Regions from separate parts of the Homo sapiens genome. Here region 2 is linked to region 1. Evidence: fine-mapped expression QTL. A gene starts in region 1. The other region holds a variant in brackets. All regions are shown on one strand. Distances are between the middles of the regions. Region 1 holds the start of CDKAL1 (CDKAL1 threonylcarbamoyladenosine tRNA methylthiotransferase). Region 2 holds the start of LOC107986578 (a long non-coding RNA gene).

Region 1 (12,714 bases):
TTAGCCGAGATCGCGCCATTGCACTCCAGCCTGGGCAACAAGAGCGAAACTCTGTCTCAAAAAAAAAAAAGACTGTCAATCACAGACTTCCCTTTCCCTAGACACTGGAATGGGGAACATGACCCAAGCTTGCCAGGGTAACTCATCCTCCTGGCCACAATGACCAGTTCAAGGTCAGTCATGAGAAGCCTAGCCAATAAGAATCACTGTGAGGATTCTACGCTAGTGTTAACAGAAGATAGCTTCTCTTGTCACTGAAGTGGCTAAGTTGGGAGGATGTCAACTTGGGGATACCAGAGCCCTCTTGTCTGCTACAGGGAGGAAGCCTACTTAAGGAATGAAGCCTAATAAGATCTAGAAAGATAAAGAACCATACTGACATTATTTGAGCATCTGAATCCAACAAATGCCTGAAGCCAAATGCAGCCCTGCTCTGCCCAGTCATGCGAGCCTGTGGCTTAAATCAGTTTGAGGTGGGTATTCTGTTCTTGCAAAAAAGAGCCCTGGCCAACTCAGCCATCCAGGTAGGGTGAAATGAACCAGGTTAGTCTTTCCCAAATTGCTTCTAATTATTTACTACCTATCTGGAAAAAAAAATGGTTCTGTGGTCAAATAAATTTAGAAAATTCTGCGTCCTTACCCATTCACAGTGTGCATTATTAAAGACTGAAGAACTGCAGTAAGAAATTGCACTAGTTTCCAGGATGCCACACTCTCCTAGCTCCAGTCTCCTCTGCTCATCTCTCCAACTTCTCACCATTAGAATGCCCCCATGGCTCTGTTACAGGAACTCTTCTCTAGTTTCAGGCACTCCCTAGGTGACCTCATCCAGTCCCATGGCCTTGAAATATGAACTACGTCTATGCTTACATAACCAGCCCCATTCTTCCCCCGAGCTTCAGACTCAGACGTTCAACTGCCTATTCCACACCACTGCTTGAATGTCTAATAATTCCTTCAAACTTAAAAAGTTAAAACAGGGCTGGGCATGGTGGCTCACGCCTGTAATCCCAACACTTTGGGAGGCTGAGGCGGATGGATCACCTGAGGTCAGGAGTTGGAGGTCAGCCTGGCCAACATGGTGACACCTCGTCTCTACTAAAAATACAAAAATTAGCCAGGCATGGTGGTGGGCACCTGCAATCCCACCTACTCGGGAGACTGAAACAGAAGAACCGCTTGAACCCAGGAGGCAGAGGTTGCAGTGAGCTGAGATTGCACCACTGCACTCCAGCCTGGGCGACAAAGGGCGAAGCACCATCCCAAAAAAAAAAAAAGTCAAAGTCGAAACAGAATTCCTGATCTTCTCCCTACCTTACCAGATCCTCTTACAACTTCTCCCATTTCATTTAATGGCAATCCTGGCTGGGCGCAGTGGCTCATGTTTGTAATCCCAGCACTTTGGGAGGCCGAGGTGGGTGAATCACAAGGTCAGGAGTTCAAGACCAGCCTGTCCAACATGGTGAAACCCCATCTCTACTAAAAATACAAAAAATTAGCCAGGCATAGTGGCGAGCGCCTGTAACCCCAGCTACTTGGGAGGCTGAGGCAGGAGAATTGCCTGAGCCCAGGAGGCAGAGGTTGCAGTGAGCCAAGATCTCACCACTGCACTCCAGCCCGGCCAACAGAGTGAGACTCTGTCTCAAAAAAAAAAAAAAGACAATCCCAATCTTCTACTGCTCAGGCCAAAAATCCTGCACTCCCCTCTTTCTGTCACCCTAAATCCAATCAATCAACAACATCCTGTTGGCTGTACCTTCAAAATATATTCAGAATCTATTTGTGACCATACCCACTGTTACACTCTTGGTCCAAACCAACATCACCTCTTGTCTGGATTATTGCAATCCCTAATATCCTTGCTTCTATCCTTAAACTCTACAAGAACATTTTCAGCACAGAAGTCAGGGATCCCTTTAAAACCTAAGTTCATCTCAAGCTTCTCAATCAAACCCTTCCAGTGGTATTCCATATCAGAGTAAAAAGCCAAAATCACTACAAAGATCTGCAATGACATATATAATCAGCCTCCTGCTGCATCTCTGGCCCCACTTCCTACCACGCTCCCCTCAGTCATGCAGGCTTTGTTATTTCGTACCCACTAGATATGCATTCATTTCACAGTCTTATTCTTGCCTGGAATGCTCTTACTTAAGACACCTGAATGGCTCACTCACTCAAGCCCTTAAGGACTTTGCTCAAGTGTAACAAGAGAGGACTTTCCAACCAACACCCCCACCTCACCACACACCCTCTTCCTATGCCCCTTTCCTGCCTTTTTTTAAACTGTAGCATTTAATCATCTGCTTAAAATGTTTTAATAATTTTTTAACTGTTTATCTTACTAGAATACATACTTCGTGAGGGTAAAGGTTTTCGTGTGAGGTGTTCACTGTTTTATCCCAGGTGCCTAGAACTATGTCTAGCACATTGCAGGTTCTCAATAAATACTTTTACTGCAGACTACACAGTCGGGCAATATATGGATATAGATATTCTGAGTATGCCAAATTAGTTTCTGACTCGGGAGCCTTCATAATTGCTATTCCTCTGCCAGAATATCAGCCCCCAGATAAGTATGTCTTCCCACCCACTTCTTCACTCAAACAACATCTCCTCGGAGAGGCCTTTCCTACTACCTTATCTAAAATAACCACGCTGCCCAAGCATGCCCACACTTTCACTGCTTCTAACCCTGCTTTTGTTTCATGTTTCTTCATTGTGCTTACCTACCTGACACCACATATATAATTGTATCTTCCTCATTACAATGTAAGCTTGTTAAGCACAAAGGCATCATCTCTTTTTCAGTACTGTCTCTACAACACCTCTAACAATGCCTGACACATAGCAGGCACACAATAGTTACTGACTAAATGAATGAACACAATGCTTAAGTTGAATTTAGCTAGTCTTTCTATGACACAGCAGGAAATTCTACACTGGGTGGGAAGCTGAAGTAAATGCCCAACCCCTAGGATTTCTTCTATCACCACTCTTCTATGAAATAATTAAATGAGAGAGGCTAGGACCAGGTAGTGCCTTTGGAATGCGGAAGAACTACTGACAGATCATGAATAATTAAATAACATTAATTAAAAGCCATATTTTTTAATTACACAATTTTGCCATCCCATATACAAGTGTGTATGGATCCACTGAAGAGAAATAGAAAGGAAAAAGAGGAATGAAAGGAATCCACTGCAATAGACATCCCATATCATTAGAGTTAGAGAAGCAGAAGTTGCTAAGCTTCTTATCTTACAGAGCTGGAGTCCACTGAAGCAAAAGGATTTGTACATTGATAGAGCTAGAAATCAGAACCTTGGCATCCTCTCAATACCATGCTCTTCCCACTATGGCTTTGCCTCACTGGCAAAGTACAAACAATGCAAGAATCTAATGTGACACTAATAAGTAACCACATTCCAGAAAACAATGCGTAAAGGAAAAACAGGCAGTTCACTTAAGAAATACAAATACCCAGAAAAGAAAAAAAAAAAAAGAGGAAAGAATGCTCAACCACACTAACAACAAGTATTGAAACAATAAGTTATTTTTCAGCTGCCTCACTGATACAAAGCTGACAAAAACTCTGTTAGCTGAAAGCACAGAAAAACTGGTACACCCCTTCTGGAGGGCAACCTGACAATTATACCAAACATATGTATATCCTTCGAGCCAGCAATTTCATTTGGAGATATTCACTCAAAAAAGATAAATATAACGCTGCATATCAGCATTATGTAGCATAAACCTGGCTGTATATCATAAGTACCTAAATAATCTCACTCATCACTATTAATAAGCTAAAGGTTTTACTTTGAACAAACTGATAGACTGATAGAGGGAATTGTTTAGCCTTCAGAAATTTTTAATTAAATCATATGGAAATGAAAGTTTGAGAATAAAAGGAAAGCAGCGTAATAGCTAAATGGAGCAAAAGGATCATTAAAAATTTTTCTCAAAGGTAGAGGAAATCAAATTTGATAAAGGGAATAAAAATAGAGTCAGTGAAAAGGAAAATACTCAAAATGATAGGAAGAAGGAGGATGCAATATCCTAGAGCAGTGGTTACTTACATAGGTGAGTTATTAGGGAGGCTTTTTTTTTTTTTTTTTGTAATTATGAGACAGAGTTTCACTCTTGCTGCCCAGGCTGGAGTGCAATGGCACGATCTCGGCTCACTGCAACCTGTGCCTCCTGGGTTCAAGCAATTCTCCTGCCTCAGCCTCCCGAGTAGCTGGGATTACAGGCACCTGCCACCACGCCCAGCTAATTTTGTATTTTTAGTAGAGACGGGGTTTCACCATGTTGGTCAGGCTGGTCTTGAACTCCCAACCTCAGGTGATCCACCTGCCTTGGCCTCCCAAAGTGCTGGGATTACAGGCGTGAGCCACTGCACCCAGCGGGAAGCTTTTCATCATATCAAATCTCCAGGTTCCATTCTGAATTAGAATCTCCAAGAGTAGAACTGAAGTATGTGAACATAGAAACTGTCCAGGTAATTCCACTATAGATCCCTAATTAAGAACCACGATTCCACAGTAATGGTTCTCAATCTTCAACACTCATTCTATTCACCTGAAGAGCTTTTGAAAATTCCCAACTAAGCTTGCAGTGAGCCGAGATCACGCCACTGCACTCCAGCCTGGGCGACAGAGCGAGACTCTGTCTCAAAACAAAAACAAAAACAAAAGAAAAAAAAGAAAATTCCCAACTAAGCCCCAAGATAGCTGAATGAATCTCTGAGAATGGAGCCTGGGCATCAATATCTTTTAAAAACTTTCCAGTCATTCTCATGTGTGTACAGCCACAGTTGCAAAGCAATGTCCAGTGGTTTTCAAAGTGTAGTTTCCACATCAGCTGGAGTAGCATCATGGGGAACTTGTTAGAAATGAACATTTTTTCTTTTTCAGTTTTTTTGTAAAAACAAGGTCTCGCTTTGTTGTCCAGGCTGGTCTCAAACTCCTCCCATCTTGGCCCCTAAAGTATGGGATTACAGGCATGAGCCACCATGCCCAGCCAGAAATGAAAATTCTTGAACTCCACTCCAGACATACTAAATCAGATATTTTGAGTAAAACCTAGCAATATTTAACAGGCCCTCTAGGTGATTTTGATCTGAATTAAAGTTTGATAATCACTGTCCCAGAATTATTCTTTCATAAAAACCACCTAGAATGTATGTCAAATATACATAACCTAGACAATTCAAGGGGGAAAGCGTAGTTTTTTTTTCAACAAATGACACTGGGATAACTGGATAGCAACATGTAAAAAATAAAGTTGGAGCCCTATTTCACATTTCACATCATATACAAAAATTAACCGAAAATGGATCATAGACCTAAATTTAGGAGCTAACATTATGAAACTCTTAGAAAAAAACATAAGCACAAATCTTTATGATGTTAGAGTAGGCCCTTCTTTCTTAGCTAAGAAATGAAAAGCACAAGCAACAAAAGGAAAAACAGATTAGATGAAGAAGATACAGAAATGGGCCAGGTGCAGAGGCTCATGCCTATAATCCCAACACTGGGAAGCCAAGGTGGCAGGATCACTTCAGGCCAGGAGTACAAGGCCAGAGCCTAGGCAACACGGACCCTATCGCTACAAAAAAAAAAAAAAAAGTAAAATTTAGCCGGGCATGGTGGCATGCACCTGTAGTCCCAGCTACTTGGGAGGCTGAAGTGGGATCACTTGAGACCAGGTGGTCAAGGCTGCAGTGAGCCGTAATCGAGCCACTGCACTCTGGCCTGGGTGGCATAGGGAAGCCGTGTCTCAAAAACACACACATACAAATGGCTGATAAGCACATGAAAAGATGTCAACATCATGAGCCATCAGGGAAATGGAAATCCAAACCACAATAATACACCACTTCATACCCATTAGGATGGGTAGAATCAAAAAGACAAATAACTGTTGACAGGCATGTGGATTACATCACCCAGAGGGGAAGAAAAAGAGAACAGAGGTAGGAGAAGGTACAAGACCACGACTTGAGAGACTCCAAATTTAACTGCCAGATAAAGGAAAATCAGCTTATAATGGATTCCAAGAAGCAGCCACCAGACAAGGAAAAAAATCCATGGGCCATGGAAGGCAAATGAAAAGGGCATCTCAAAAAAGTGGACATGGTCAATGCTGGTGAATGAAAATGAAAGGTTAAGTAAAATAAATGAAAATATCTCTTCGATTTAATGCTATGTAAAGCACAATGTTTCCATAACATGATAGTGGCAAATAGCTAAAACATTAGGCTACCTCTCTGCATTTTCTAACATGCAGAAATACGCACAGCACTCAAACATAAAAGGTTTAAAATAAATCAGTACCTTAATTATCTGCAATTAGTCTAAAGTCCTCTTGAAAGATGAGTCTGGAAAATAAAAATTGATTAGGAAAAGTAAGCACCCAAAAAGTTCACAAAACCACTGTAAGGATTCTTTACTTAAAAGGAATCAGACTCCATAAAAGACTGCTTTATACAGCAGGATTAATGATGCTCCATACTACTTGTAACTTCTTACTGATTACAACAGGTGTGCTGACATCTGCCGTGACGGTGATCCAGTGTCTGGCTTTAGTAATAAATGTTGTATTCAGCACCGCAACACGTCTGCATAGTGCGAGTAACCAACCACTACAAAACAGGATTAAGTCAATAAGGTAGATAGACATCCAGATCACGTTCCATCCGAAAGATAACTGTCGTCCCGAGATTCAGAAAAAGGTTTTATGAGCAAAGAAGAACGAAAAGTGAAAAAGCAAGACACCTGCTTTTCTCAATAACTTCTGCTTAAATTCTTAACATACTGATCTGGGAAAGCTATATAACTGCGAAAGCCTTGTCACATCTACAAATTCACTAAGGTATAAAGTGGGAGAACAAATGAAGTTAAACCTGACAATAAGGAACGAGGTGCCTAAAATACTCCTAACTGGAGAGCGGCACCTGAGGCCAACGACCCTATCCTCGCTCCTGGAAGCCCCATCTGCCTCCCAATTCCCCCATCCCAGCTGGCAAATCCCCTTTTAACTGCGAAACAAATTTGCAAACAGCCCAAGAAAAACTGAAACTGGAGAAACAAGGCTTGGCCATAAAAGGAGCTGTGGCCACACTCTGCCCCACATGGACCCATCGGCCACCCTTACCCAGAAGTCGGGAAGTAAAAACCAGTCCAAAGTGAGAAAATCAACCCGCCACTCTCCGGAAGCTGCACAGACTTTAGATGGAGAGCGCCATGACACATACGTCCCGCCACGTTTATTTGCGCATGCTCAGCGACGGTGGCCCGAAGAGATCAAATTACATCATTGCTGAAAGCGCTAGTTCTGGTTTAACTTAGTTTAGGAATGACTACGCTTCAAGTTCCTTTGATTCCAAGAACTAAAATAACAACCCTGAGTCCTCGGGTTCCTAGAAATGCTTAATAGCCAACTTCTCCTAAGCTTTTATGTGTTAGACACTGTGCTAAGTACTTTGCATAAATATTATTCACTATTTATTTATTATTATTATTATTCCCAGTTTACAAAAGAGGACACTGGAAGTTTAAGGACTTAATCTAAGTTACTCTACTAGTCGTGCTGCGCTCTGGGCTGGATCCGATGCTGTCTGACTCCCAAAGAACTTGCTCTTTTCACTGCATTTTACTAGCCTCCTCAATCATTTGTGAAAAGAGGTCTCTTCTTTAATATTAAAAAAACAGGAAGGAAAGGATAAAGGTCAGTTGGTAGGTTTCACTTAATATACATCATTGAGCACCACACAAGTGTTTTTGTTTTTTGTTTTGGAAAACTTAGATGGCAGTTTAGCAGACACCTATGGAAAGAAAATACTTTTATGGAGTACGGATTCTCACCCGCTTTCTCTACATATGTTATCTCACTTTACTATTCGTTACCCAAGACACTGTATTTGACCATGTGTTTACCAGAAGAATATCTTTACTTGAAAAAGTAAAGGTAATAGGAGGCAATAGGCCATGAAGAAGGGTCAGAAATCGTGAGTTTTATGCCTGACTTAGGGTTTCATAGTGATTTGGGGCAATTACTTTGTTTTGCAAATGCCTTTCCTAGTACAATTTCATCTAATTAAAATGCCATCCATCTACTCAAGAGGCTGATGTGGGAGGATCACTTGAGCTCAGAAGTTTGAAAACAGCCTGGGCAACACAGTGAGACCCAGTCTCTAAAATAGATTTAAAAAAAAAAAAAAAAACCACCCTTTTCTCTGTTTATCCATATCCATAAAATAATCTAAACTGTGCCCTGGGGTCCACTGTTGTCTTTACCCACCTAAATTAAAATTGTGTATTTATGTTGCCCTACTTTTTTTTTTTTTTTTTTTTTTTTTTTAGATAGGGTCTTCTTCTGTCACCCAGGCTGGAGTACAGTGTTACCATCACAGCTCACTGCAACCTCTCCCTCCTAGCCTCAAGAGATTCTCATGCCTTAGCCTCCCAAGTAGCTGGGACTACAGGTGCACACCACCATACCCATCTAATTCCATCTCTTTCACTAGACCAAAAGTAGGCCCTGGGTTATCTTCTTGGTTGTAATCGCACTACCTAGCACATAACCTTGTGCCTATGTTTATAGCTTCTCAATAAACATATGTTGAATGAATGAATGAATGAATGAATGACTCCACCCCTTTTCCCCCAAGATCTAGTTGAGTTCAGTAAAAGATATTTTACTGAGTATGTACCCCATGACCACAAGCACTGTGATAGATGCTAGAGCTAAAAAGAAAGAAAAAAAGTACTGCCTATTGCAATTGCAGGCTATTTTGAAAAAATTCATTTCAGTAGAGAATAGCAATCACTATGAAAGATGAATGCACAGGAACACAAAGGTGAAGTAAGGGAAATGGATGAAGGCATTCCAAGCTGGAGAGTCAGCCAGAGCAAAAGCAAGGAGGCCTGAAATGATGAATTATTCCACAGTGTAAAAGCAAAGAGAGTGAAGCTGGTGATGGGAGAAGTCTACCAGAGAAAGGGAAGCACAGGGACTAGATCAAGGTGAACCTTGTGTATTCAAAGGCATTAGACTTAATCCTGGATGTATGTAGTAGGCAACATGAATGTGTTCGAGCAGATTATTCTCTCAGGACAATGGGTTTGAGGACGATATTTCAGACATGAAGAAATAGTAAAAGCCTAAATTGAGTTGTTGGCTGGGAGGAATGGGAAGGAAGGACAGATTTAAACAAATTGAGGAGGTAACAGCAGCAAGACTTGGTGATTGATAGGTACGAAAAAAGAGGAAGAAAGGATGTTTTCAAGTTTTGGCTACAAAAACTAACTAACAGGTGAAACCTCTCTCTTTAAGCACCTTTAGTCTAAATCCTTTGAAGTCAGTAACCCTACCTCTAGGAATTTATCTTACAGAAATATACATAATGACCTATGTTCCAGAGTATTTTTTGAAGCATTGCTTACAATGACCTATGTTCCAGAGTATTTTTTGAAGCATTGCTTACAATGACCTATGTTCCAGAGTATTTTTTTAAGCATTGCTTACAATAGCAAAAGACTGGAAACCCTCTCCGGCTCCTCCTCAATAGAGTATTGGTTAAATATATTTATAGTATCTGTACAACCTTTGAAAAGCAACCAGTAAGTCCGGGTGCAGTGGATCACGCCTGTAATCCTAGCACTTTGGGAAGCCGAGGCGGGTGGATCGCCTGAGGCCAAGAGTTCAAGACCAGACTGACCAACATGGTGAAACCCTGTCTCTACTAAAAATACAAAATTAGCTGGGTGTGGTGGCATATGCCTGTAATCCCAGCTACTCAGGAGGCTGAGGCAGGAGAATCTCTTGAACCCAGGAGGTGGAGGTTGCAGTGAGCGGAGATTACACCATTGCACTCCAGCCTGGACAACAAGAGCGAAACTCCATCTCAAAAAGATTAAAAAAAAAAAAAAAAGGCCAGGCACGATGGCTTACGGCTGTAATCCCAGCACTTTGGAAGGCTAAGGTGGGCGGATCACGAGGTCAGGAGATCAAGACCATACTGGCTAACATGGTAAAACGCTGTCTCTACTAAAAATACAAAAAATTAGCCAGGCATGGTGGCATGAGCCTGTAGTCCCAACTACTCGGGAGGCTGAGGCAGGAGAATCGCTTGAACCTGGAAGGCGGAGATTGCAGTGAGCTGAGATCGCGCCACTGCACTCCAGCCTGGGCAACACAGTGAGACTCCGTCTCAAAGAAAAAAAAAAATAATGCTTTGTTTCTTAAATTAGAGTTAAGCTTCATAAATATACACCATCCTATTTTGTTCCTGTTTTTTCAGCCAACAATATAACACTAAATGCTTTATAAATATTTGGTAATAAGTAAACAAACCAATTGGTGTATACCAAGAACATTAAAAATGCAAGTAAATCTATAAAATAATAGTAAAGCTAAGATTTTTTCAAACACTTATAAATGTGTGCCAATAACCACCCATAAGTAACCCTATAAATGAGGAGTGCTATTATTATCTTGTTATCTCTTTTAACAGAGAAGAAACCTAAAGCTTAGGCAGTCTGACTTCAGTTGTTTTAACAACTCTATATGAATACTTCAGAAGAAAGCAACAATAGTGCAAAATTTCAAATAGAGAAAAAGCATTGGAGAGAAAAAACAAAAGAGTGATCAAGGAAAAGTGGAATAAAATCTGTTTGCCTGGACCGGGCACAGTGGCTCATGCCTGTAATCCCAGCACTTTAGGGGGCCGAGACAGGTGGATCACGAGGTCACAAATTCAAGACCAGCCTGGCCAAGATGGTGAAATCCCGTCTCTACTAAAAATACAAAACTTAGCCGGGCGCGGTGGCAGGCACCTGTAGTCCCAGGTACTCGGGAGGCTGAGGCAGGAGAATCGCTTGAACCTGGAAGGTGGAGGTTGCAGTAAGCCGAGATCGCGCCACTGCACTCCAGCCTGGGTGACACAGTGAGACTCCATCTCAAAAAAAAAAAAAAAATCTGTTTGCCTTAAATATTTTATGTTGGCCTTCACAGTAAAAATTGAAGAGAAAATATGGACAAGAAAGAAGTTACACAATTCTTACCCTCTCAGTGACTAATCAATAAAGAATAAAATATGAAAATTATAAAAATCTGGGGCCAGGCACGGTGGCTCATGCCTGTAATCCTAGCACTTTGGGAGGCACAGGCAGTTGTTTCACTTGAGCCCAAGAGTTTGAGACCAGCCTGGGCAACATGACCAGACCCTGTCTCTACAAAACAAACAAAAAAGTAGCCGGACATGGTGGTTCCAGCTACTCGGGAGGCTGAGGTGGGAGAATCACTTGAGCTCAGAAGGTCCAGTTTGCAGTGAGCCGAAATCACACCGCTGCACTCCAGTCCAGGCAGCAGAATGAGACCCTCTCTCAAAAATAAATAAATAAAATTAAAATTAAGAATTGGGAACTGCTTTTTAAGATTATGTTTTGGAGACAGGGTCTGGCTTTGTCACCCAGGCTGGAGAACAGTGGCACCATCAGAGCTCACTGGAAACTTGAACTCCTGGGCTCAAGCAGTCCCCCCACCTCTGCCTCCCAAGTAGCTGAAACTACAGGGGCATGCCACCACGCTCGACTAATTTTAAAACTCTTTTTGCAGCAACAGAGTCTCACTATGTTGCCCAGACTGGTCTTGAACTCCTGGCCTCAAGCAGTCCTCCACCTCAACCTCCCAAAGCGCTGGGATTGCATGCATGAGCCACCAGCCCAGCTGGAACACATGTTTTAGATTTAGTTGATGATCTGAGCAACTAGCCATTATACATACACATCTGTACCAATCAATATCCCTTTTCATGAGAAAATATTCATGTGCTTAATTCACTCTTGAAAGATGATAAACAATATACATGAAATTTTCTATGTAGAACATTAGGTGAATTTAGTAGAATGAGAGTTAAAACAGATTTTTATATTTATATATATATAAGCTACATATAAGCAAAGTGAAAAGTATGACTATTAAGTGCTCTTAATTTTTTTTTTTACAGGAGCATGCCACCGTGCCCAGCCAATTTTTGTAATTTCAGTAGGGACGGGGTTTCACCATGTTGGCCAGGCTGGTCTCGAACTCCTGACCTCAGGTGATCCGCCTATCTTGGCCTCCCAAAGTGCTGGGATTACAGGACTGAACCACTGTGCCTGGCCAACTAAACAGTTTTTCAGGAAAGTTTTGCAGGTGTTGGATGAACCCAAGAAGAAAGATGGTAACAGCAGAGGAATAGAGGGGGGCAAAAAGAGAAATACTAGATCTATGAGAAACGAAAAATTGCCCCGGATGGATGGGTGCTTCAATGTAGAGAATAAAAGGGAAGAATGCTGATGTTCTTTAATAAACTGATAAAAAGATCATATAGGAACATGATGTGAAATAACCTCCTATTGTCTTTGGACAAATGCTGAATTTTCTCTGCATAATTTAACCACTAGGGGTCAGAGTGCTATACTTCTACTATCTTTTTTTTTTTTTTCTTTGAGATGGAGTCTTGCTCTGTCACCCAGGTTGGAGTGCAGTGGTGTGATCTCGGCTCACTACAACCTCCACCTCCCAGGTTCAAGTGATTCTCCTGCCTCAGCCTCCTGAGTACCTGGGATTACAGGCGCCCACCACCACACCCGCCTATTTTTTTTTTTTTTTTTTAAGTAGAGACGCGGTTTCCCCACATGGGCCAGGGTGATCTCAAATTCC
Region 2 (12,714 bases), 700 kb before region 1:
TTTCTACTCTAGTCCTTTGGTCTCTGTCTGTCCTTAAGCAGGTATCACAGTTGTAGTTACTGTAGCTTTGTTGGAAGTTTTGAAGTTGGAAAACATGAGTCCTCCAGTTTTAGTCTACTTTTTAGAGATTGTTTTAGCTATTTGGGGTTGCCTGTGATTCCATATGAGTTTGAGGGTTGGCTTTTCCATTTTGGTAAAACAGGCTGTTAGAATTTTGATAGAGAGTGTGTTTAATCTGTAGCTCACTTTGGGTAGTATTAACATCTTAATGCTAAGTTTTCCTATTAATGAACATACGATACCTTTCCATTTTTCAGATATTCATAAATTTCTTTCAGCAATGATTTTTAGTTTTCAGCATACAAATCTTTTACCCCCTTAGTTAGATATATTCCTAAGTGTTTAATTTGTTTAGCTGCTATTGTAGATGGAACTGCTTTCTCAATTTCCTTTTCGGATTGTTCATTGCTAGTGTAAAAAAACACAAATGAATTTCTTTTTTTGCATTGGTCTTATAGTCTGTAACTTTGCTAAATTCATTTATTAGCTCTAGTTGCTTTCCTGTGGTTTCTTTGGGATGCTTTATACATATGATCATGTAATCTGCAAATAGAGATAGTGTTACCTACTCCTTTCCAATTTGATGCCCTTTACTTCTTTTTGTTGTCTAATAGTTCTCACTAGAACTCCCAGTACAATGTAAACAGCAGTGGTGAAAGCAGGCATTGGGCTTTGGAATCAGACTGTCTAGTATAACATCTATTGGTTTGTGATTAATTGGGCATATTAAAAGCAGATTAGATAAACCTCGGAGTTAAAAACTCATACTTCTTTAGGTTTTTCTGAACTCCAAGTTTTCCTTTACCTTGACCCAAGGTTGTTCTCCTCCATCCCCCTGCTTTTTTTTTTCCTGAGAACTTGCATCATTAGTGCTCAGAAATGTATTCAGATACCCAGAAGCTAGGAAGATCATGAGACACCAAGTGACATCCTTTGCTTCAGCTTCTACACCGTTGAGATATTTTGGCTATAGAACTCTAGGAAACAGTACTGGGAGAAAATAATTGACAGAAAACTAATCAAGAATAATAGTGTCTGCATTTCCTTTTAGTCTCAAAGCAGGATGGGGGAGGGCATGACTTCTAGGCCTCCCTATTAATCTGGTTGCTCTTTTCATCTTTGGCCATGGAAAATCTCCTTCTTGATCTTAGATTGGCCACCCAAATCTGTGCTCCACACTATTCATTAATTTGATCTCCTCAAATACAGCTGCAGTCCATTGCCTTTGAATTTTTCTTCCTTTGCTGCATTTGTTAGAATCAGACTCTATCTCTCTCAAGGTAGGAATCTTTTTATTCCATATATAAATCTTTTGGGTGGTCATGTGTTGATATCAGAATTTAAAACACCTAACTTTATTTATAAAGGTATTTTTCACCTTTAAGTGGCTACAGTAATCAAAAAAGAGGAGGAAATGTCATGTGTCAAGAATACAGTATTTTATATGCATGAGTTCACTTATCTTTCAATGACCCACAATGGAATCTTGTTCCTGTTTTAGAGATGTGGCTCAAAAAGAAAAAGTGGTCTGGCTGGAATTTAAAGTTTTGCTGATGTCAAAAATCTCATGGTCTTTCCTTATATTTTCTGCCTCAAATTTGTATTGGAAACAACTGAGAGCTGAATCCAAGTGATTCTGATTGTTAACTCCTTTACAGTTTCAACATCATAAAAATCAAACTCAACGGCAAGTCCAGTGTAAATTTATCAAACACATGCTATGGATAATCTAACTTTAAAGTAAGGGGAAAATATTTTGAGAAGGGATTAGGACTCCAGATTATAAGTTTGACATGGATCCTTTAAATTAGGTTGTATCATAGAGCAGAGGTTTTCAAACTTTCTTGATTGTTTGTACCCCTAGGCCAAAAGCAGCAGCTAACCTTCTGTTTAAATAGGTAATCCTGACAACTGAATAAGCATTTATATCCTACTATCTTATGAGAACCGTTTGAAAAAATAATACATGTAACTTAGATAAAAATATTAATATTTTATTTCATATTAATTTTACTTATTAATGGCAGCTGTGCATCTGTTGGGTACAGCACCCCTTCTCAAACCTTGGACTATGATCACAATTTTCACTTCTTGTTCCACATTGATTTTCACTTGATACTTGCTTTTTATCACAGCAATTGCTGAAAATCCAGTTTTATAAAGACATGGTGTCATCAAAATTTGTGAAATCTAACGTTGAAAACTGTGAACTATTTTGAGCTGGTAGTTGGCCTGGTATCTGACAGATGTTGCTGTGTTCCCTCCAAAAATTTAAGGAATCCCAGGGTGCTCCTGTGAATGTGCCACAGCATCCTGGGGTGCCTGGGGGGACCAGCAAACCTTTTAGAAAACGTACATATTCATTTTTTATTGTGAGTATTTAAGGTGAACATGTATTGATACACATATACACAGCAAAATGGTGGCTACAGTCAAGTGAATTACCATACCCATCATCTCATATGATTACCTTTTTTGTTGTTGCTGCAAGCCTTAAGAATATCTTTTCTCCTTTTCTTTTTCTTCCTTTTCTCTCCCCTCCTTTCTTCTCTTCCCTCCCTCTCTCTCTTCATTTTTTTCCTATGTTTGTTTTATGATGACAAACCCTCTTGAAGCTTGATTTGTAACTCTAATTCTCCCTCCATGACATCTTACAATATACACTGAAATTTTCAACCTGGAGTGAAGTCAGTAGAAGTAGTATATGTTTTGACTGAATGACATATGGAAATCTGATGTTTAGACACATTTTCCCAGCAACAAAGCAAAGTTTTAACCCAAGAATTCTTTACATTCTCAAACTGACTATCTCATGCTGGGATGATAAGAAAGGAAGCAGGGATGATAAGATGAAGCAGGGACAATAGAAAGGAGGGAAAGAAAGAAGGAAGGAAGGAGGGGGCAGGGCAAAGAAAAAAGCTTGATTAGTAAATCTTTATTTAAAAAGTATATCAAGTACCATGCACATTCTTGGAGCAGGACAACACAGACTGAAAGGCTGAAGGCCCCCAAGCTCAGGCATCCACAGGATTGATCCTAAATGTGTATCTGTTGGCACAGGTCAAGTTTAAGTCAAAGATGGGACAGAGGAGCAGGAGGAGTTTACAGAAGAGGAGTATATGCTTTGGAGTCAGGCTGTGTACCAGTCCTGCCTCTAAACTTAAGAGCTCTGTGCCTCTTGCACAAGTTACTTAGTCTTTTGAGTTTTAGATTTTCTTCTCAGTATGATGGGAATCACAATACGTATCTCAAAATTTTTTCTTCAGGACTGATTAACACCTGTTAAGTGCAAAGTATAACATCCAGTGCATTTCATTTAAGGACTAGACAGTTAATGGTTGTCAATATTATCATTACTATTAAAATAGGAATGACTTGTGGAAGGGAGACAGCAGAGACAAGGTCTGCTGAAGAATATCTAAGGTCCAAAGAGAAAAAATAGTGGGAGAATGACAGAATTCATGTCAACTGCTGGTGGGGATGTAAATTGGTACAACCACTTCAGAAAACCATTTAGCAGTATCTAAGCTGAACATATGCAAATGCTATGACCCAGCAATTCCACCCCTAGACATGTACTCCTCACATCATCACATAAACACTTAACAAAACGTGTTTATAGCAGCATTATTCATAATAGACAAAAAATTGGAAAGAACTCAAATGTAGAATGAACAATGTGGTGTACTCATACACTGAAATACTATTCAGCAATGAACGTGAAGTAATTACTGCTCACACAATAATCTGGATGTGTCTCACAATCACTGTAGAACAAAAGAAGGTAGACATGAAATAGTGCATACTACATGATTCCACTTATAGAAAGTTTAGAATCAGGCAAATCAATCTGTAATGTTAGAAATAAGGATACTGGTTACTCCTTGCGGGGCAGACTTAATGGCTAGGAGGGTACATGGGGAGCCTCCTGGTGCTGGCTACAATGCTTGCTCAGTTTTTAAAAATCCCTGTATCCCTATGATTTATGTCCATTTCATATGTATGTTTTATTCTAGTAAAGAGTTTAAGAAAAAAATTGGCCAAAGCATTGAAAAGATCACTTCATAGGTTTCCTTCTCAGCAGAGAAGTACACACACACACACACACACACACACACACACACACACCCCTTGATACTAATGCAAAGCATACAAAAGCATACAAAGAAAACATAACAATTACATTTACAATCTGCGGGTCAAGCATCCTATCACGGCTGACACTTCGTATAAATCAGGTTACGAATGCTACGGCTACGACCCCCAGATGCCGGTGGCTTAACACAACCACAATATATTTCTGGTTCCTGATGCCTATGTAGCACATGCTGGCCAGGAGCCCTACTCAACTGTACTAACTCAGGGACCCAGGGTCGGGGAGGCGTCATTCTGACATATGGGTCCAGGATCACCACAGCAGTGGGAAGAGCACACAGTAAACCGTACACCAGCTCTGAACATGTCTGCCCCGAAGAAGGACGTGACCCTTCCGCTCACATTTCACATTTCGTGCCTAACTTCAGCGGGGCGGGAGAAGCGCAGTTGCACTGTGGGCAGGAAGGAGACAGGCTGGAAAAGTAACAGCTCTACTCATGATCACACTTGCTCCCGTGGTTCCCAGACTCAGCCCCATTCAGAGTCCAGGGCTTAAGAAAACTGTTTTTAACTTGCACTGCATCCTTCTCTGCTCTCTCCCTCCCCCTCCCTAGAGATGGAGGTCACAGGGGGAAGAAAAACCCTGGATTTCCAGAACACTGCTACCCCTCTCACCAATTGGTCGCCAGTATGGAGACTGATTTCATGAAGGTCCAGCGTCTGCTGCGGGCAGTGACCTCGGTCCCTTTCTGGGTCAAACGGCAGAGTGAAGCTGCAGCCAAATTGAGGGTAAATAACAGTCACAGCAGGAAGTAGGGAGAATCCTGTACAGCTGAAACGATCCTTGAGGATCCCTGCCATGGTAGGTGAGAGCAGCAGGGGGGGAATTTGGATGACTGGGTGTATCATTCTCTTACAGGAAGAAAAAAATGAAAAAAGGCGAGGACAGCATAGAGCTAGAAGGGAGGAAATAAACAGATGAGGGAGTGAGGAAAAGAGTAGGGAAAGAGAAAAGGGAGGTAGAAAAAATCCTTTTTGTCTCCAATCAGTTACAGGTGTAAAGCTTTCTCTATGTCTGATCTAGTGCAACTCTAGGCTTTGGATGGCATTTTTATCTCTGCTAGGTTTTTGTTAAATGAGCACCACACTGGAACCCACTGTTTATTAACAAAGAAATGACTGCGTAGAGCTCAAGAAGGGAGGCACATGGTAGGTTCTTGTCCTCTTCTCATTCCTGCTAAGAAGTGAGGGGTGCTCCCAAGTGGATGTTTCACTGCAGGACTAGAAGCAGCACAGGAGGATTTTTGCATTCTAAATGTGAGCACCTCTTAGAAGCACATACCAGTTCCAGGAGAAATGTACTAACACTAAAAGCATATATATTTTATAATTTACCAACTAGGACATGACTGAATTTTAATTTGGGTTCCTTAAAAGACACACAAAACACAAACATTTTGAGTTAAATGTAAGAGCTGAAGAGGGGTATGGGTTTCGAGATGGAAAATATCCTATGGTAACTACACGGTACCTGGTTTTCCTGTACCTATGCAATCCAAATAAATTCTCAAAAACATAGGATTTGCTTAGTATACCAATTCTATTTATTGTTAAAGAAAGAAGTCACTTCACTTAGTAAAGACCAATGATGGCAGGTAGAAATAAAAACATTTAATCTGGGCTGGGTGGAGTGGCTCACGCCTGTAATCCCAGCACTTTGGGAGGCTGAGGCAAGAAGACTGCTTGAGGCTAGGAGTTCCAGGCAAGCCTGGGCAACATAGTGACACTCATCTCTACAAAAAATTAAAAAATTAGTTGGGCATGGTGGTATATGCCTGTAGCCCCTGGCTATTAGGGAGGCTGAGGTAGGAGGACTGCTTGAGTCCAGGAGGTCAAGGCTGCAGTGAGCCAAGATAGTGCCATTGCACTCCAGCCAGGGTGACAGAGTGAGACCTTGACTCAAAAAAAAA[A/C]AAAAACAAAAACAAAAAAAAAACCCCAATGGATCAAAAATGTGAGAAAATGGGCACAATTAGTTTTCGACAAATCCAGTTTTCCAGTTTCATATTTCACAGAATGTTGCCAGGAGTCCTTTAGCTGGCAGACTCTCCCCGTGCATTCCAAAAGCATTCAGGTTCCCAGAACAGGTTTCTATACACTTTTCAGGAACACATCTGCTGTGAAAAATACAATGTTTGTAGCACTGGGACTCCAAACAAAGCCTGAAGGGGAAGATGCACTTAAAAATATTTATTAAAGAGGCCGGGCGCAGTGGCTCACGCCTGTAATCCTAGCACTTTGGGAGGCCGAGGCGGGCGGATCACTTGAGGTCAGGAGTTCGAGACTAGCCTGGCCAACATGGTGAAACTCCGTCTCTACTGAAAACACAAAAAAATTGTCTGGGCTTGGTGGCGCATGCCTGTAATCCCAGCTACTTGGGAGGCTGAGGCAGGAGAATCGTTTGAACCCAGGAGGCAGAGGTTGCAGTGACCTGAGATCGTGCCACTGCACCACTCCAGCCTGGGGGACAAGAGCGAAACTCCATCTGGAAAAAAAAAACAAAGAAAAAGTTTATTAAAGATAGAAAATTCTTCCACATGAGGAAAAGATGGCCAGAGCCACTGTACAATTAGGTTCTGACTTAAAGATTAGAGATTGAAACAAACAGAAAAAAATGCAACCGCTTGCATTTCTTGCTAAAAGTAAACCAAAAGCAGTTTAATTTGAAGGATGTGCTATGGTAGCGGTGATTAGGTTTTAGGTCAAATAACCAATGGGCCCAACTCAATGTGAGACAGGGGGAGCCTCATTAAGAAGAGTGGCTGAGAAGGAGGCAGCATGACCAGTACAAATTATTGCCCTTGGAGAATGGAGATGTCGCTTTCCTGTTCATTGAAGATTTTAATTAGAAATGTATTCTTCTTTATAGATGTTTCCATTAGTTGTATTCTAATTATAGACCTTGACAAAAAAAGCAAAAAGAAGACCCAGCAGAGCCAAGCCCACGGACATCCTCAGCGCACAGTCTTGATGTAGCCTTGGCATGGGCAGCACCATTCTGGAACTCGCTGAGTCACACTGAGATGCAGCAGAGGTGTGGGATCCTGAACTCAGCTGGTTCCCAAGCCCATTTCTGAAGTCCTATAAAGAGAGAAACAGAGGAAAAAATTATTTTTAGATGCAGAGAAAGCCCTGTTGTGATATCAATCAAGCAATGGGTTCCAGAAGGTGCCGCCTTTTATGTACTCCTTCAACAGAGACACGTTTGAACACCCACCATGGGCCAGGTGGCCCCAAGGTAGGTATGAATGAGTCAGTTCCTTTCCTTGAAGGGCCAGGCCAAGTTCATGACTCCAGACTACACATAAACTGTATGAGAAAGACGGGCCGTGTTTATAGAAAATCAAGGCAGAATTCATGAAGGGTAGAATCTGTGTAAAGTGGAGTCATACCACAGACATATTTAACTCTTAGAGAGATGCAACCATATCTTCTCAGCAATGGAAGAATGACAAAGAAACACCATGGGCCAGGTGTGGTGGCTCACGCCTGTAATCCCAGCACTTTGGGAGGCCAAGGCGGGCTGATCACTTGAGGTCAGAGGTTTGAGACCAGCCTGGCCAACATGGTGAAACCCCGTCTCCACTAAAAATATAAAAATTAGCTGGGTGTGGTGGCAGGTGCCGGTAGTCCCAGCTACTCTGGAGGCTGAGGCAGGAGAATTGCTGGAACCTGGAAGGTGAAGGCTACAGTGAGCCAAGATTGCGCTGCTGCACTCCAGCCTGGGCAACAGAGTGAGACCCTGTCTCAAAAACAAACAAACCAACCAACAACCATGGAAGCCATGATTCAGCAAACACATCCCTAGGACAAAGATTCCCAGCTGGTCTGCTGCCACAGGAGGGCTGCGCCAAGAGTGACCCACCCCACATAACCCCACACTCAGTCCCCTCAAAGTACCTTGTGTGCCATACAAATACTATCATCATTTTCTCTTCATGCCAGATAGAGAACAGGTTGGGAAACCCTGCTTGGGCAGAGCTGAGAAGCTGGGGACCTGACTGTGCAGCTTTTCTCAGTGGTTTCTGTTCACCGGCTTCTTAGCTGGTGTCCAGGGAAGCGGAGAGAGGAGCACCTGGCTATTGTCAGGGTGGCTCTAGTTTCGAAGCACAATTGATGATATTTTCACCTCGTGTACCTGCTTCAGAATCGGTGCCTCCCCCAATAACATGGGACTCCCCTGTTGAAACCTGAATAACATTTTGAGAGATGGAAGGAGGGGTGTGGAAGGAGCAGATGAGAAATGCTAGATGGAAGGAAAAATGCTAGGGCGGAGGGGCAGCCCAGAGGCGGTGCAGGACAGGACAGGAAATCCACAGAAGCACAAAGTATCTTTGAACAACCATGGTACTTTGCTCAGTCTTCCCTTCCAAGCGCTCTAGCAACCTCCTGGTACCTCTTTGGCTTCTGTTTGGGAAGCTGCATCTCAGCATGCACAGGAGAGACACTGGAATGGTGCTTTGCAGAAGGTAACAGGAACAGGAATGTGTGGGGTGGACTGAAGGGAGGCAGGAGAATGGGGTAGAAAATCCAGTGGTAAGTTGTAGCAACAGATGAAATGGGAGATAATGAGGACCTCTATCAGGATGACGGCAGAGGGAACAACAGACTTTTGATGTAGAATCAATAGGATTTGAATTCAAAGGATTGGGTAATGCAAGACACAAAGAATAGGAATGGGGAAATGAAAACAACTTCTACAGCCCAGTTTCCACAGGCTCCTATTTATATGTGATTGTGTGGGAAGAATTCTTGCTCTGTCTGTAGAAGGCTAACAGCAGAATTAACACAGCTGTTAGCCACAAGGAAAAGTCTCTCAACCATAATGACAGTGGAAGCATTATTTACTGCTGCACTCCTCAGGTATCCGGGCCGATATCCTGCTGGTCTCCCTGCACTCTGAGTCCTTCGTAAGGAGGCACACAGCTGGACAGAATGGGACCATCCTTCCCATGGCAGGGGGAGGCAAGAGCTGGAGCTCAGTGGTGCACGAAGACCTGTCCCCATCCCCAGGAGACAGCTCTCTTATGAGGGTGGCTTTTTGCGTAATATTTTGGAGTGAGGTTTATGCTGAAGAGCTTCCATTTCTATTTAAAATAGCCTCAAGATCTCAAGGACAGCACTCACATATATGTGGGAACCTGGAGAAAGAATGCAGAGTCCTTCAGCTGAATTGATTGATAGGAACTATGTGAGTTCCTCAAAAGCAGCGAGTCTGCCTAATTCATCTCTGAAATCTTGGAACCTAGCAGGCTGCAGTCACAGAGCAGGTACTCAGTAAGTGTTTAGGAATGAATGAATGAATGACTGATCGAGTGAATAATATGAGAGTGTGTATTCCAATGAGATGAGCAACCATCAAGAACATTCTCATCTATGTCTCTGGTGATCAATGTGTCCTGTGATACATTCAGGAAGCTATTCTACTTGAGTCACAAATTGTTGCCTCTAGCAATTAAACCATCACTTTATAAGTGTGGTGTTATAAGACCAGAATTAAGAGGTTGATTAATTTCTCCGAGGCCTGAGTTCTTTAACCTTTGTAAGTCATAGATGGCTTTGAGAAGACTACACAGACCCTTCCAGAAAAATATGGAAGCACATTTACATATCCACACAGCCTCGCTCACACTCTTGTCTTCAGGAGGTTCACAGATACCTTCACCCAGGAGTGGACCCAGATTTTGTGGGTCCTGAAGCCTTCTCTTTAAGAAAAAAATAATGAATACAAAATTAGGTACAGGGTCTTGGAAGGGGCCCCTCAAATTGAGAGACCCCGAAACTGGCTACACGAGCTTCAGGGAAAATCCACCCTTTTCCCTATCCCCAGTTCAGAATGCTTGACCTTGGTTCTGAACCTGTGCCATGATTAGTGGTGCCAGGCCAGGTGTCAGGCTGACCTGGGGAAGGACTAGGTGAGTCTTAAAATCTTAAGCATTTAGTTGGGTTGATAACACGTTTTGTTTTTTGTTTCATGAAGCAGTGCAGGTACTGCGCCTTCTTGGCCTGGGTTAAAATAAAAGCAAAACTCTTTGACTTCTGATGACAATTTCAGAAAATTTCTTCTCCTTTCAACTCATCTGCCATAAAATTTTGTTCAAAATAAAGTTACCTACTGAACTACCGGAGAGGATTATTTGTGGTCATGTTAAGTTTAGTCATTCTTCCTCGGGCATCCTTTTTTTCTCTCCACCCCTCAGATGTTTAACATATTTGAACATAACTGATTCATAAAGGTATTTTGGTGCTGAGCTTTCCTCCTGTGCCTGCTGGACAAGTCTGCACCCTGCATCCTGCAGAGAAGCAGAAGCATGCATATGCAGCCACAAGATTTGCCACTCTCTTGAGGATCAAGGCGGGAGCGTGACCGCGGAGCAGGAGAGGGTAAATGCATCCTGTCTCTATTGTGCTGTGCCCTTTTATTATTTTCACCTTTTACCAAATCAAGATCTTGATAAAAGGATTTTGATGATACTATTTTTAAACATAATATTTTTAAAGTTTCTCAGATGACAGAGTAATTAATAATCAGTAGCTAGCTAGCTTTGCACATTTCAATTGTCACTACCACTGAGATACTTAAGAAAAAGTAGTTTAGAAATATGGGAAATATGAGATCTTATAAAGTCCAAGATGCTCAAACATGTAAATGTACAACCATACCAGTTGAAAGCAGGGATCATGAATAGAAAATAATGTAATAAAAAGTGCTTATAGGCGAAGTGATTATAAACAGCCGATAGAAAAAGTCGACACACACACGACAAGCGTAGTTCTAGAAAGTAAACAGAGGCTCAGACCTTCCCTAAACCTTTAAAACCTTATCAAGATTGTCAATTCCTGAAATTCAATACATATCTGCATCGCTCAAAGTATCATACACCAAATTCGAATAATGTTATTGCTTATTAAAACAAACTGGGGCTGGGTGCGGTGGCTCACGCCTACAATCCCAGCACTTTGGGAGGCCGAGGCGGATCACGAGGTCAGGAGATGAGACCATCCTGGCTAACACGGTGAAACCCCGTCTCTATTAAAAATACAAAAAATGAGCCAGGCGTGGTGGCGGGAGCCTGTAGTCCCAGCTACTCGGGAGGCTGAGGCAGGAGAATGGTGTGAACCCAGGAGGCGAAGCTTGCAGTGAGCCGAGATCGCGCCACTGCACTCCAGCCTGGGTGACAGAGTGAGACTCCATCTCAAAAACAAAACAAAACAAAACAAAAACAGCAACAACAAAAAAAACAAGCTGGAACATCAACTCAGACAATTTTTAAGAACTCAAATTCTACTCAGAAATGCTTTTTTAAAAACAGAAATTTGAAACAAGGCAGGATATGACCTTTGCTTACGCAAAAGGCGTTATTTATCTGTTAAATGGAGTTATTTATCCTGTTATAATAAAGACTAAGGGGCGCACTAAAATTCCCATCGTGCATTCTGTGTTAACTTTGATTAACATGGGTTTGTCTTCCCTTGTAAATCTCACTGCTCCCTTGATTAATTTCTAAATCTACTTACTTGCTAACTCTTAAAAATAATCTACTAATTTTCAAAAGTGTAGCTTATCAAATCCTATCAAAGTAATCAATCTGTTAAAGCAGAACCAAGTATGGATACCAAAATTTCAAAAAAAAAAAAAAAAAACTTTCATGTTCAGAAACTTTAGGGATCAGATTTCAATCAGTTAAAGATAAATACAGACAGTTGGGATGATAACAACAGTCTATCTCTATTTCCTTCGTCTTTAGCAGTTGTGCACGTATTGTTGGGGAAAGGAAAGAGATGCTTTTAACTTGAGCATGTTTCACGCCACAAGGCACAGATGGAACCGGTTCTAGGAGCAGTAAGTCCTCGAGCTCTGGGCTCTAATCCCAGCTCCATCTGAGGATTCTCAGGCAAATTTTATCCTCTTTTTGCCTCCATTTCCTCACCTGTAAAATGGAGATACTGCTAGTATTTGTGCATCATAGGGTTTTTATGAGGATTAAATTAGATATATATAGATTAAGTGTTCTGAACATTTAAATGTCAATTCAGATTAACTTATTCCATGGTATTCTGTGGTTCTAATGAAAAACGCAAACGTCCTCAGAAATTCTTTTTGTAAATTACAAAGTCATTATTTTATTTGCTTCTAAAATAGAATTGACCCGTGCTATTTTTGTTCCTTATGTATACCATTAAGAGGCACACACTATAATGAATGAGCATGGGTTTTGAATTGTGGCAGACCAAACTGAACGCAGGTTCAGACAGCCATGTGATCTTAGGCAGGTAGTTTAAACTCTCTAAGCCTGGCTATCCTTTCTGTGAAGAAGGAAAGCCATCTACCTTAGGAAGTTATCAGAAGGAATAGAAGTAATGTGCCCACAGCCGGGCAGAGTGCCTGGAATACAGAAGGTTCACAATAAGGGCTGCTGTGACGGTGACGTCACAGGAGTGTAGCTTGAAAAACAGAGAAGGCCAGAGCCTCCCACAGCACTTACTACCAACACTGAGATG

Evidence for each region. PIP is the estimated chance that this variant, and not a neighbour inherited with it, causes the effect.
Region 2: its variant is fine-mapped to the expression of CDKAL1 in whole blood (INTERVAL, PIP 0.98).

Annotation. Positions count from the first base shown.
Region 1 is chr6:20,529,022-20,541,735 of GRCh38, reverse strand. It overlaps CDKAL1 (CDKAL1 threonylcarbamoyladenosine tRNA methylthiotransferase), which reads right to left and starts at 7,279. Exons shown (of 16, transcript NM_017774.3): 1 at 7,162-7,279; 2 at 6,342-6,385. RefSeq lists enhancers at 7,081-7,160, 7,191-7,350.
Region 2 is chr6:21,225,427-21,238,140 of GRCh38, reverse strand. CDKAL1 (CDKAL1 threonylcarbamoyladenosine tRNA methylthiotransferase) reads right to left here. Exons shown (of 16, transcript NM_017774.3): 16 at 5,737-7,293. The coding sequence ends at 7,102. LOC107986578 (a long non-coding RNA gene) reads left to right here and starts at 7,082. Exons shown (of 2, transcript XR_001744021.2): 1 at 7,082-7,450; 2 at 9,313-10,337. RefSeq lists an enhancer at 6,721-7,920. The variant A/C (reference allele first, on the strand shown) is at 6,126.